Regions from separate parts of the Homo sapiens genome. Here region 1 is linked to region 2. Evidence: fine-mapped expression QTL. A gene starts in region 2. The other region holds a variant in brackets. All regions are shown on one strand. Distances are between the middles of the regions. Region 1 has its middle 84 kb from the start of SERPIND1. Region 2 holds the start of CRKL (CRK like proto-oncogene, adaptor protein).

Region 1 (5,368 bases), 230 kb before region 2:
TTTATTTTTGACAGGAAGTCTCGCTTTGTAGCCCAGGCTGGAGTGCAGTGGCGCGATCTCGGCACACCGCAACCTCCGCCTCCCGGGTTCAAGTGATTCTCCTGCCTCAGCCACACCAGTAGCTGGGACTACAGCCGCGTGCCACCATGTCTGGTTAATTTTTGTATTTTAGTAGAGACAGGGTTTCACTATGTTGGCCAGGCTGGTCTCCAACTCCTGATCTCGTGATCCGCCCGCCCCAATCTCCCAAAGTGCTGGGATGTGTGAGCCGCCACGCCTGGCCACTACTTTTTCTTTTCTTTGTGTGTTTTTTTTTTTTTTTTTTTTTTTTTGGTGTGTGTGTGTGTGAGATGGAGTTTCCCTCTTGTTGCCCAGGCTAGAGTGCAATGGTGCGATCTCAGTTCACTGCAATCCCCGCCTCAGCAGGAGAGCAGGAATCTTCAGTGATCCACTGGCGGATCTGCAGCCATTGTGCGCGCCAGGTCTTCCCAAGTCTTTTGTGCGCGCGCCTCTCCTTCCAGTACCTATCAAGCCAGCGTCCCCTAGCCTCCCGCCATTGCCAGCAGGTGCTGAGATCGCGCCATTGCACTCCAGCCTGGGAGACAACAGCGAAACTCCGTCTCAAAATTAAAAAAAAAAGGATGAAAATTTTGGAAAAATATGGAAGAAACCAAATGGATTTCTAGCTCAACTAAATCGTAATTATTCAGTGTCTAGTTTTTGCAAGAAACCATATATTTCATGTCCACAATCGGCCACAGTCCCAGCTCTCAAGTGTAGGTCTTTCCTAAGCAAATTGAAGAACACAGGCATAAAAGTGCATTAAGTCAATAAACATTTTTCTCTGTGTCTCTCTCTCTCTTTTTTTTTTTTTTTTTTTGAGACGGAGGTTCGCACTGTCACCCAGGCTGGAGTGCAGTGGTGAGATCTCGGGTGACTGCAAGCTCCGCCTCCCGAGTTCACGCCATTCTCCTGCCTCAGCCTCCAGAGTAGCTGGGACTACAGGCGCCCGCCACCACGCCCGGCTAATTTTTTGTAGTTTTAGTAGAGACGGGGTTTCGCTATGTTGGCCAGGCTGGTCTCCAACTCCTGACCTCGTGATCCACCCGCCTCCGCCTCCCAAAGTGCCACAGCCCCGGCCTTTTTTTTTTTAAGACAGAGTCTCGGCCGGGCGCGGTGGCTCACGCCTTTAATCCCAGCACTTTGGGAGGCCGAGGCGGGCGGATCACGAGGTCAGGAGGTCGAGGCCATCCTGGCTAACACGGTGAAACCCCGTCTCTACTAAAAATACAAAAAAGCAGCCGGGTGTGGTGGCGGGCGCCTGTAGTCCGAGCTACTCCCGAGGCTGAGGCAGGAGAATGGCGTGAACCCGGTAGGCGGAGCTTGCGGTGAGCCCAGAGATCAGGCCACTGGAATCCAGCCTGGGCGACAGAGGGAGACTCCGTCTCAAAAAAAAAAAAAGAAAAAAAAAAAAGACTCTGACTCTGTTGCCCAGGTTGGAGTGCAGTGGCGCGATCTCGGCGCATCGCAATCCCTTCCCAGCCCCCGGGTTCAAGTGATTCTCCAGTCTCAGCCGCCGGAGTAGCTGGGACTACAGGCGCGTGCCACCATGTCTGACTAAATTTGTATTTTTACTAGAAAGGGGGTTTCACTATGTTGGCCAGGCTGGTCTCCAACTCCTGATCTCGTGATCCGTCCGCCCCGACCTCCCAAAGTGCTAGGATTATAGGCATAAGCCGCCACGCCCGGCCTTTTGTTTTTCTTTTTCTTTTTTTTATTTGAAGACTGAGTTTTGCACTTGTTGCCCAGGCTGGAGTGCAATGGTGCGATCTCAGCTCACTGCAATCTCCACCTCAGCAGGAGAGCAGGAATCTTCAGTGATCCACGGGCAGATCTGCCGCCATTGTGGGCACCTGTTCCTCCCGCGACCTTTGTGCCCGCCTCTCTCCTTCCAGTACCTATTGCATGACCCCCCACGTCCGCCTCCCGCCATTGCCAGCAAGTGCCTCGCGCGGGTACCTGGCTGCGCTTATTAATCCGTTAAGCTCGCTCTGTCACGGGCGCCGTGATGTGCTCACGCGCCCGCTCCCTCAGGTTTAAAAGGCGCGTTGCCCGGCAACAGAAGAAACTGCTGGCTTAGCCGTTGGCCGAGTTGGCGGCTGGACGAGGACGCTCAGAGCCCAGCTCTCGAGAGTTCAAGCAACCGACGGTTCCCCACTGCTCCCAGGAGCGGTTACCTGGGCACTCTGTGCCCCTCCTTCCTGTTCGGGCCCAGGCCGAGGACCTGCCAGTAGGGCTCAGTTGCCTGGAGCCCGTTCAGCCCATCCCCCAGTTCACTTTGCCTGTGGGATCTCCCCGTTGCTCCTGCCCGTGGACTGAGTGGCAGGCCATCCTACAAGCACCCGGACACTTGACATCCGTGGTGTCAAGACAACTCTAAGAAGGTTTTCCGTGATCCTGCAAGCCCTGCCTTCCTTTCTGGGATCCTGCCTTCAATTTGATTGCACAGGTACCACAGCAAGCCAGTGCTGTGTGCTCCGAGTTCCAGGGCGTCCTCCAGCTCAGCCACTGCACTGAGAACATGGACTCTCTGTGGGGCCCAGGAGCTGGGAGTCACCCCTTTGGGGTCCACAACAGCCGGCTGTCCCCAGACTTGTGTCCAGGGAAGATAGTGTTGAGGGCCCTCAAGGAGAGCGGGGCAGGGATGCCTGAGCAGGACAAGGACCCTAGAGTCCAAGAGAATCCTGGTGATCAGAGAAGGGTCCCCGAGGTCACCGGGGATGCACCGTCTGCATTTCGGCCCCTGCGGGACAATGGAGGCCTCTCTCCCTTTGTGCCCGGGCCCGGGCCTCTGCAGACAGACCTCCATGCCCAGAGGTCAGAAATCAGATATGACCAGTCATCCCAGACCTCCTGGACGAGCTCGTGCACCAACCGAAATGCCATCTCCAGCTCCTACAGCTCCACGGGAGGCTTGCCGGGGCTAAAGCGGAGGAGGGGGCCAGCCTCATCCCACTGCCAGCTGACCCTCAGTTCCTCAAAGACAGTGAGTGAGGACAGGCCTCAGGCTGTCTCTTCGGGTCACACCCAGTGTGAAAAGGTGGCAGAGAAAGCACCAGGGCAGACACTCGCCCTCAGGAATGACTCCTCCAGATCCGAGGCCTCTAGGCCCAGTACACGCAAGTTTCCCCTGCTGCCACACAGGCGAGGGGAGCCTTTGATGCTGCCACCTCCCGTAGAGCTGGGGTACCGGGTCACTGCTGAAGACCTGGAC[T/C]GGGAGAAGGAGGCGGCATTCCAGTGCATCAAGAGTGCACTGCAGGTTGAGGACAAGGCCATCTCAGACTGCAGACCCTCACGGCCTTCCCACACTTTGTCCTCACTTGCAACAGGGGCTTCTGGTCTGCCTGCCGTTTCTAAAGCACCCAGTATGGATGCACAGCAGGAGAGACACAAGTCCCAAGACTGCCTGGGCCTAGTGGCCCCCCTAGCATCTGCTACAGAGGTCCCCTCTACAGCTCCCATGTCTGGGGAGAAGCACAGACCACCAGGCCCCCTGTTCTCCTCCTCAGATCCCCTTCCTGCCACCTCTTCCCACTCCCAGGACTCAGCCCAGGTCACCTCGCTGATTCCTGCCCCCTTCCCAGCTGCAAGCATGGATGCGGGCATGAGAAGAACAAGGCCTGGCACTTCTGCTCCTGCAGCTGCCGCAGCAGCCCCTCCCCCCTCCACATTGAACCGCACATTGGGGTCACTATTGGAGTGGATGGAGGCCCTTCACATTTCTGGGCCTCAGCCACAGCTGCAGCAGGTGCCCAGAGGTCAGAACCAGAGATCCCAGACCTCCCGGACCAGCTCGTGCCCCAAACGAAATGCCATCTCGAGCTCCTGCAGCTCTACGGGAGACCTCCCGGGACGAAAGCGGAAGAGGCGCCAGCCTCATCCCACTGCCAGCTGACCCTCAGTTCCTCAAACACAGTGAGTGAGGACGGACCTGAGGCTGTCTCTTCGGGTCACACCCAGTGTGAAAAGACGGCAGATACAGCACCAGGGCAGACACTCGGCCCCAGGGGTGGCTCCCCCAGATCCCAGTCCTCTAGGCCCCGTAGACACAAGTTTCCCCTGCTGCCACGCAGGCGAGGGGAGCCTTTGATGCTGCCACCTCCCTTAGAGCTGGGGTACTGGGTCACTGCTGAAGACCTGGACCGGGAGAAGGAGGCGGCATTCCAGCGCATCAACAGTGCACTGCAGGTTGAGGACAAGGCCATCTCGGACTGCAGACCCTCACGGCCTTCCCACACTTTGTCCTCACTTGCTACAGGGGCTTCTGGTCTGCCTGCCATTTCTAAAGCACCCAGTATGGATGCACAGCAGGAGAGACACAAGTCCTAAGACTGTCTGGGCCTAGTGGATCCCCCAGCATCTGCTGCACAGGTCTGTAGTCCCAGCTACTCGGGAGGCTGAGGCAGGAGAACGGCATAAACCCGGGAGGCAGAGCTTGCAGTGAGCTGAGATCGCGCGACTGCACTCCAGCCTGGGTGACAGAGCGAGACTCCGTCTCAAAAAAAGAAAAAGAAAAAGAAAAAAAAAGTTCTTGTGACATTTCTGTATGAAATCAGCCTTCACTACATGGATAGGACCAGCACGCTTCCGCGGCACGACTCTGCAATCTTACTACATTTTTTTTATTTTGTATTTTATTTATTCCTTTTGAGACAGTCTTACTCTGTCACCCAGGCTGAAGTGCAGCCGAGATCTCGGCTCACTGCAACCTCCACCTCCTGGGTTCAAGCAATTCTCCTGTCTCAGCCTCCCAAGTAGCTGAGACTACAGGCACACGTCAAAAGGCCCGGCTAATTTTTGTATTTTTAGTAGAGATGGAGTTTAGCCATATTGGTCAGGCTGGTCTCGAACTCCTGACCTCAGGTGATTGACCTGTCTTAGCCTCCCGAAGTGCTAGGATTACAGGTGTAAGTTTATTTATTTATTTAAGATGGAATCTTGCTCTGTATTTATTAATTTATTTATTTGAGATGGAGTCTTGCTCCATCGCCCAGGCTAGGGTGCAGTGGTGCAATCTCGGCTCACTGCAACCTCTGACTTCCAGTTTCAAGCGATTCTCCTGCCTCAGTGTCCCAAGTAGCTGGGATTACAGGTGCCTGCCACCACAGCTGGCTAATTTTTGTATTTTTAGTAGAGACAGTGTTTCACCGTCTTGGCCAGGCTGGTCTCAGGCTCCTGACCTCATGAACCACCTGCCTCAGCCTCCCAAAGTGTTGGGATTACAGGCCTAAGGCACCATGTTCGGCCATATTTATTTATTTAATTATTTAGAGACAAAGTCTTGCTCTGTCACCCAGGCTGGAGTGCA
Region 2 (5,368 bases):
TTACAGGCGGTGGCTCACGCCTGTAATCCCAGCACTTTGGGAGGCTGAGGCAGGAGGATCATGAGGTCAGGAGTTCAAGACCAGCCTGGCGAACATGGTGAAACCCTGTCTCTACTAAAAATACAAAAATTAGCTGGGCATGGTGGTGCATGCCTGTAATCAATCCCACCTACTTGGCAGGCTGAGGCAGGAGAATTGCTTGAACCTGGACCTGGGAGGCAGAGGTTGCAGTGAGCTGAGATCACGCCACTGCACTCCTCCAGCCTGGGCTACAGAGCTAGAGTCCGTATCAGAATAAAAAAAAAAAAAAAGGGCTGGGCAAGGAGCAGGTGATTATGAAGTGGTAAATCTGACAGTGAAAAGTAGTTAGAAAACAAAGTGGAGATTTTTCTCTCCACCCTCACCCACCCACTGAGGGTGTATGCTCAGGGTTTTAGGGTATAGAGGTAGAGGCCCAGGGAATGACTGAATAATAATAATGGAAGACTCATATGATGCTTACTATGTGCCAGGTACTATTCTAAGCACTTTGCATATATTAACTTGTTTCATACATAGCTGGGCGGGGTGGCTCACATCTTGGCTGAGGGGGAGGATTGTTTGAGCTCAAAAGTCTGAGACGAGCCTGGGCAACATGGTGAGATTTCGTCTCTATTAAAAATCAAAGGCCGGGCGCGGTGGCTCACGCCTGTAATCCCAGCACTTTGGGAGGCCGAGGCGGGCGGATCACGAGGTCAGGAGATCGAGACCATCCCGGCTAAAACGGTGAAACCCCGTCTCTACTAAAAATACAAAAAATTAGCCGGGCGTAGTGGCGGGCGCCTGTAGTCCCAGCTACTTGGGAGGCTGAGGCAGGAGAATGGCGTGAACCCGGGAGGCGGAGCTTGCAGTGAGCCGAGATCCCGCCACTGCACTCCAGCCTGGGCGACAGAGCGAGACTCCGTCTCAAAAAAAAAAAAAAAAAAAAAAAAATCAAAAAAATTAGCTGGGCATGGCAGCGCGAGCCTGTAGTCCCAACTACTCGGAAGGCTGAGGTGGGAGGATCCCTTGAGATGGGGAAATCAAGGCTGCAGTGAGCCATGATAGTTCCACTGCACTCCAGCCTGGGTGACAGAAGGAGAACCTGTCTCAAAAACAAACAAAATAAAACAAACAGGCTGGGCACGGTGGCTCACGCCTGTAATCCTAGCACTTTGGGAAGCTGAGGCAGGCAGATCACCTGAGGTCAGGAGTTTGAGACCAGCCTGGCCAACATGGTGAAACCCCGTTTCTACTAAAAATACAAAAATTAGCAGGGCATGGCGGCGGACAGCTGTAATCCCAGCTACTCGGGAGGCTGAGGCAGGAGAATCGCTTGAACCCGGGAGGCGGAGGTTGCAGTGAGCCGAGATCGCGCCCCTGCACTCCAACCTGGTGACAGAGCGAGACTCCGTCGAAAGAAGGAAAGGAAAGGGAAAGGGAAAGGAAAGGGAAAGGGAAAGGAAAGGAAGAGAGAGAGAGAGAGAAAGAAAAGAAAAGAAAAAAGAAAAGAAAGAAAGAAAGAAAGAAAGAAAGAAAGAAAGAAAGAAAGAAAGAAAACAAACAAAAACAAATAGGGATTAATAAATAGGCAGAAGCAGGCATAATCCGGGGCAGGGGAAGCCTCGGGGCCACGCCCGAGAGGCATTTGTATTTTACTTTCAGCAGTTCAGAGCCCATGATAGCCAGGTTACCCACTTGTGGACTTCCTTGACCACTTAATTGAGTCAATCTAACCCTCACCTTCTCTCTCCTCTCACTCCATTTAGCGGGTCACGTAGCCACTAGGGCTTCCTTAGCCTATCAGGCCACCTGGGGACTGAGTCATTCAGTCAGTCACCTATCTGGTGGTCACATCTGCCCCTGGGCTCATCCTTTTACTGGGCCACCTCGGCCCATCGGGACCTGTCAGTCCTTGACCTCCCTCAGGCCCCTAGGCTGGCCAGGTCGCCTCAGTGCCACGCCTCCCTGGCCCGCGATTCAGCCTGCACGTTACGCTTTGTTCCCAGAAGCAGGTTTTCGAAACGCGGTTCCCTCTCGGCTCCAGCTGTTTTCCTGCCAGCGCTGGGAGACCCGGCAGCCGCAGCGCCCCCAGCGGCGCGCAGCGGCCCAGGAAGAGAGTGCCTACCGCCGGCGCCTCTTCAGCCTCCTCCTGGAACGCGGGAGCGGGCGCGACCAGCGCCCACCCTGATCGTCGCGACGGTGCTCCTGATTGGCTGCGCTGTGTGACGTAACGGGAGGGCCCCGGCGGCCGCCGGGAGCCGGGGCCCAGCGCGTGCGCAGACGGAGCGCGCTGAGCGGAGGGGGAGGTGGCTGCCGCTTCTCCCGCGTCCGCCATTTTGTTGCTGTGGCTATTGGGAACAAGCTGGGCAAAAGCACCCCGGAGGCGCGACGCTCCTTCGAGTTCGGTGCCTCGTGTGACGGCGGGGGTCGGTGAAGACCCGTCGAGCTGCGGCGCCGGCGCGTTCCAGGCCGGGAGTCACTGGAGGCACCCCTGGGACGCCGAGCAGCCCGAGAACCCCGGGGTGGCCTCCGCTGCGGCTCGGGTTTGCCTGCCCCGACCCCCCGGCTCTGCCGTGCATTCCCGGGCGGCTCTCTCCGTGTGGCGGCCCCGGAGCAGGCGGGCGGCGTCGGAGGATGCTGCGGGCCCGGAGCCGAGAGGAAAGTGCTGGCCCAGCCCTCTGAGCGCTCCTCGAGGTGTGCGAGAGGCCCTTCCTCGGCCCCAAAGCCGTCTGCCGGGCTAAGGCGTGCAGAGCAGGCGAGGACAGCCGCCGCCCCTACCGCCGCAGAGTCCCCGGTCCAACACCATGTCCTCCGCCAGGTTCGACTCCTCGGACCGCTCCGCCTGGTATATGGGGCCGGTGTCTCGCCAGGAGGCGCAGACCCGGCTCCAGGGCCAGCGCCACGGTATGTTCCTCGTCCGCGATTCTTCCACCTGCCCTGGGGACTATGTGCTGTCGGTGTCCGAGAACTCGCGGGTCTCCCACTACATCATCAACTCGCTGCCCAACCGCCGTTTTAAGATCGGGGACCAGGAATTTGACCATTTGCCGGCCCTGCTGGAGTTTTACAAGATCCACTACCTGGACACCACCACCCTCATCGAGCCTGCGCCCAGGTACGCGAGAGCCCTCCCCGACCGCGGAGGAAGGTCGAGAACCGGGTCTGTCGAAGAGTGCTTGTATAGGGGGGTGGGGCGCGCTTGAACCCATATTCCCCGCATTCTGAACCAAATTATTTTCCAGAAGGCCTTCCTAACAGAAAGCTAGTGTCAGGATCTGGGTCACTGGATAAGAGGATGCGTTTTTTTTTTTTCCCTCTCACGAGGCTGTTTCTCAATGTGAAGAGGATGCGTTTTGAATGTTTAACGGTGGTTGCATAGTTAAAATGCACGCTTTTTGCCTTTCGTGACTTTCTCTGGGTGTAATACTGATGCAGGGATTTGTTGGTTTTTCTAAAAACCTCTTTTTTTTTTTTTTTTTTGAGACGGAGTCTCGCTGTGTCGCCAGGCTGGAGTGCAGTGGTGCGATCTCGGCTCACTGCAACCTCCGCCTCCCGGGTTCAAGCGATTCTCCTGCCTTAGCCTCCCGAGTAGCTGGGACTACTGGCTCACGCCACCACACCCAGCTAATTTTTGTATTTTTAGTAGAGACGGTGTTTCACCATGTTGGCCTGGATGGTCTCGATCTCTTGCCCTCGTGATCCGCCTGCCTCGGTCTCCCAAAATGCTGGGATTACAGGCGTGAGCCACCACACCCGGCCAAAAACCGTTTTTAAGCCATAGACTTCTTTGAGAATCTGAAGATAGCCGAGCACTCACCACCCCACCCCCACCCCCACCCCCACCCCTCCCCGCCAAAGGCACGTACACACAAGTTTGCACACCATCCCGGGTGCTTGTACTCCCTCCAGATCTCTGAACTCCAGGTTAAGAACTCCAGGACTGCAGCCTTTGGAACAGTCAAAAAAATGAAAATGCTTTAGCGTTTAGAAACAAAAAAACCTTTAACCAAAATATCAGAACTGTATATTGATACTGTGGTGCCAAGTTTGAAGCAGGCCAGACACCACCACTTTTATAGTACGTTAATTACAAAGATAAGAGAAGGTGCATTGGCTTCAGCGAGGATATTTTTTGGAAAATTTATTGCATATTTTCTCCCCGAGGACCATTAGTAGGCCAGAGATCAGTCTGGTTAATTTCCAAGGTGGAATTAGGCTAGAATGTTATTAAGGAAAATTTTTGAATGACACTTAGTTGTATCCTAGTTCAATTTCAGACATGCTTTTTGTGTTAAGTCTAATGATTTTGTATTTCTTATTTTAAAATTAACGCAAAGTGACCAAGCATTCTCTTTTCCAAGTGAAATACGTTATTTTAATTGATTAGTTGCTTTAATTTGCCTTAAGCGTTTTAGCAGAGATTTGCTTTTATTGTTGTGTTTGCCCTGTAACACTGATTTTATCAGAGGTTTCTTTTATTTAAATTATCCCAAATTTGAGTTGAAAAGTTGCCTAGAATTTTTAAAGTAACAAACTGGCCAGTTCGTTTCTTAAACATCTATTTTAAAAGGACTGGGTGTTGATACAGTTTTTCCAGGGTTAGATGTTTATGACTTTATGGATTTGTCGACCGGGTATTACTCTAAACTTTAAACATTAAAAGCTATTATAATTGAGGACACCAACTGTTTGCATAGTGGGATAGAGATAGAAAAAAAAAAGCCATGACAGTATAATGACTACAAGATTAACTACTGAACTAAATGGACTTTAAAAGTGGGGAGAAAGTGATTATAAATCAAATACTGTATAACAAAGACCAGGACACCAAGAATCTGATTGGTGAAACCTGCGGTTCCTGGCAGATGCTGGTAGTTGCAGTCAACTTTGAGCACAATATAATTCCAATTTAAGGAGTTGAGAATCTTAGAACCCACTGTAGTGAGATTTGTAATATGACTGAATAAATTCTTCCTCTCGTTTGTGAGCGTGAATTATATAATTAATACCAGGCATTCATTAAGCCATGCATATGCTTATGTTGAGGTCATGAGTACTAATAATACAGCTGTTTCAAAAAGCAAGTTAATGGGCGGGTGTGGTAGCTCACGCCAGTAATCCCAGCACTTTGGGAAGCCAAGCCGGGCGAATCACGAGGTCAGGAGTTCAAGACCATCTTGGCCAACATGGTGAAACCCCGTCTCTGCTAAAAATACAAAAAATTAGCTGGGCGTAGTGGTGGGTGCCTGTAATCCCAGCTACTCGGGAGGCTGAGGCAGGAGAATCGCTCGAACCCGGGAGGCGGAGGTTGCAGTGAGCCGAGATCGCGCCACTGCACAGCCCGGGT

Evidence for each region. PIP is the estimated chance that this variant, and not a neighbour inherited with it, causes the effect.
Region 1: its variant is the best candidate, but not a certain one, in a credible set for the expression of CRKL in whole blood (INTERVAL, PIP 0.81).

Annotation. Positions count from the first base shown.
Region 1 is chr22:20,687,450-20,692,817 of GRCh38, forward strand. It overlaps the pseudogene POM121L4P. Among named protein-coding and RNA genes, the nearest start is that of SERPIND1, 84 kb to the right of the region's middle. The variant T/C (reference allele first, on the strand shown) is at 3,275.
Region 2 is chr22:20,915,110-20,920,477 of GRCh38, forward strand. It overlaps CRKL (CRK like proto-oncogene, adaptor protein), which reads left to right and starts at 2,298. Exons shown (of 3, transcript NM_005207.4): 1 at 2,298-3,136. The coding sequence starts at 2,826. RefSeq lists a silencer at 2,215-2,664 and an enhancer at 2,955-3,014.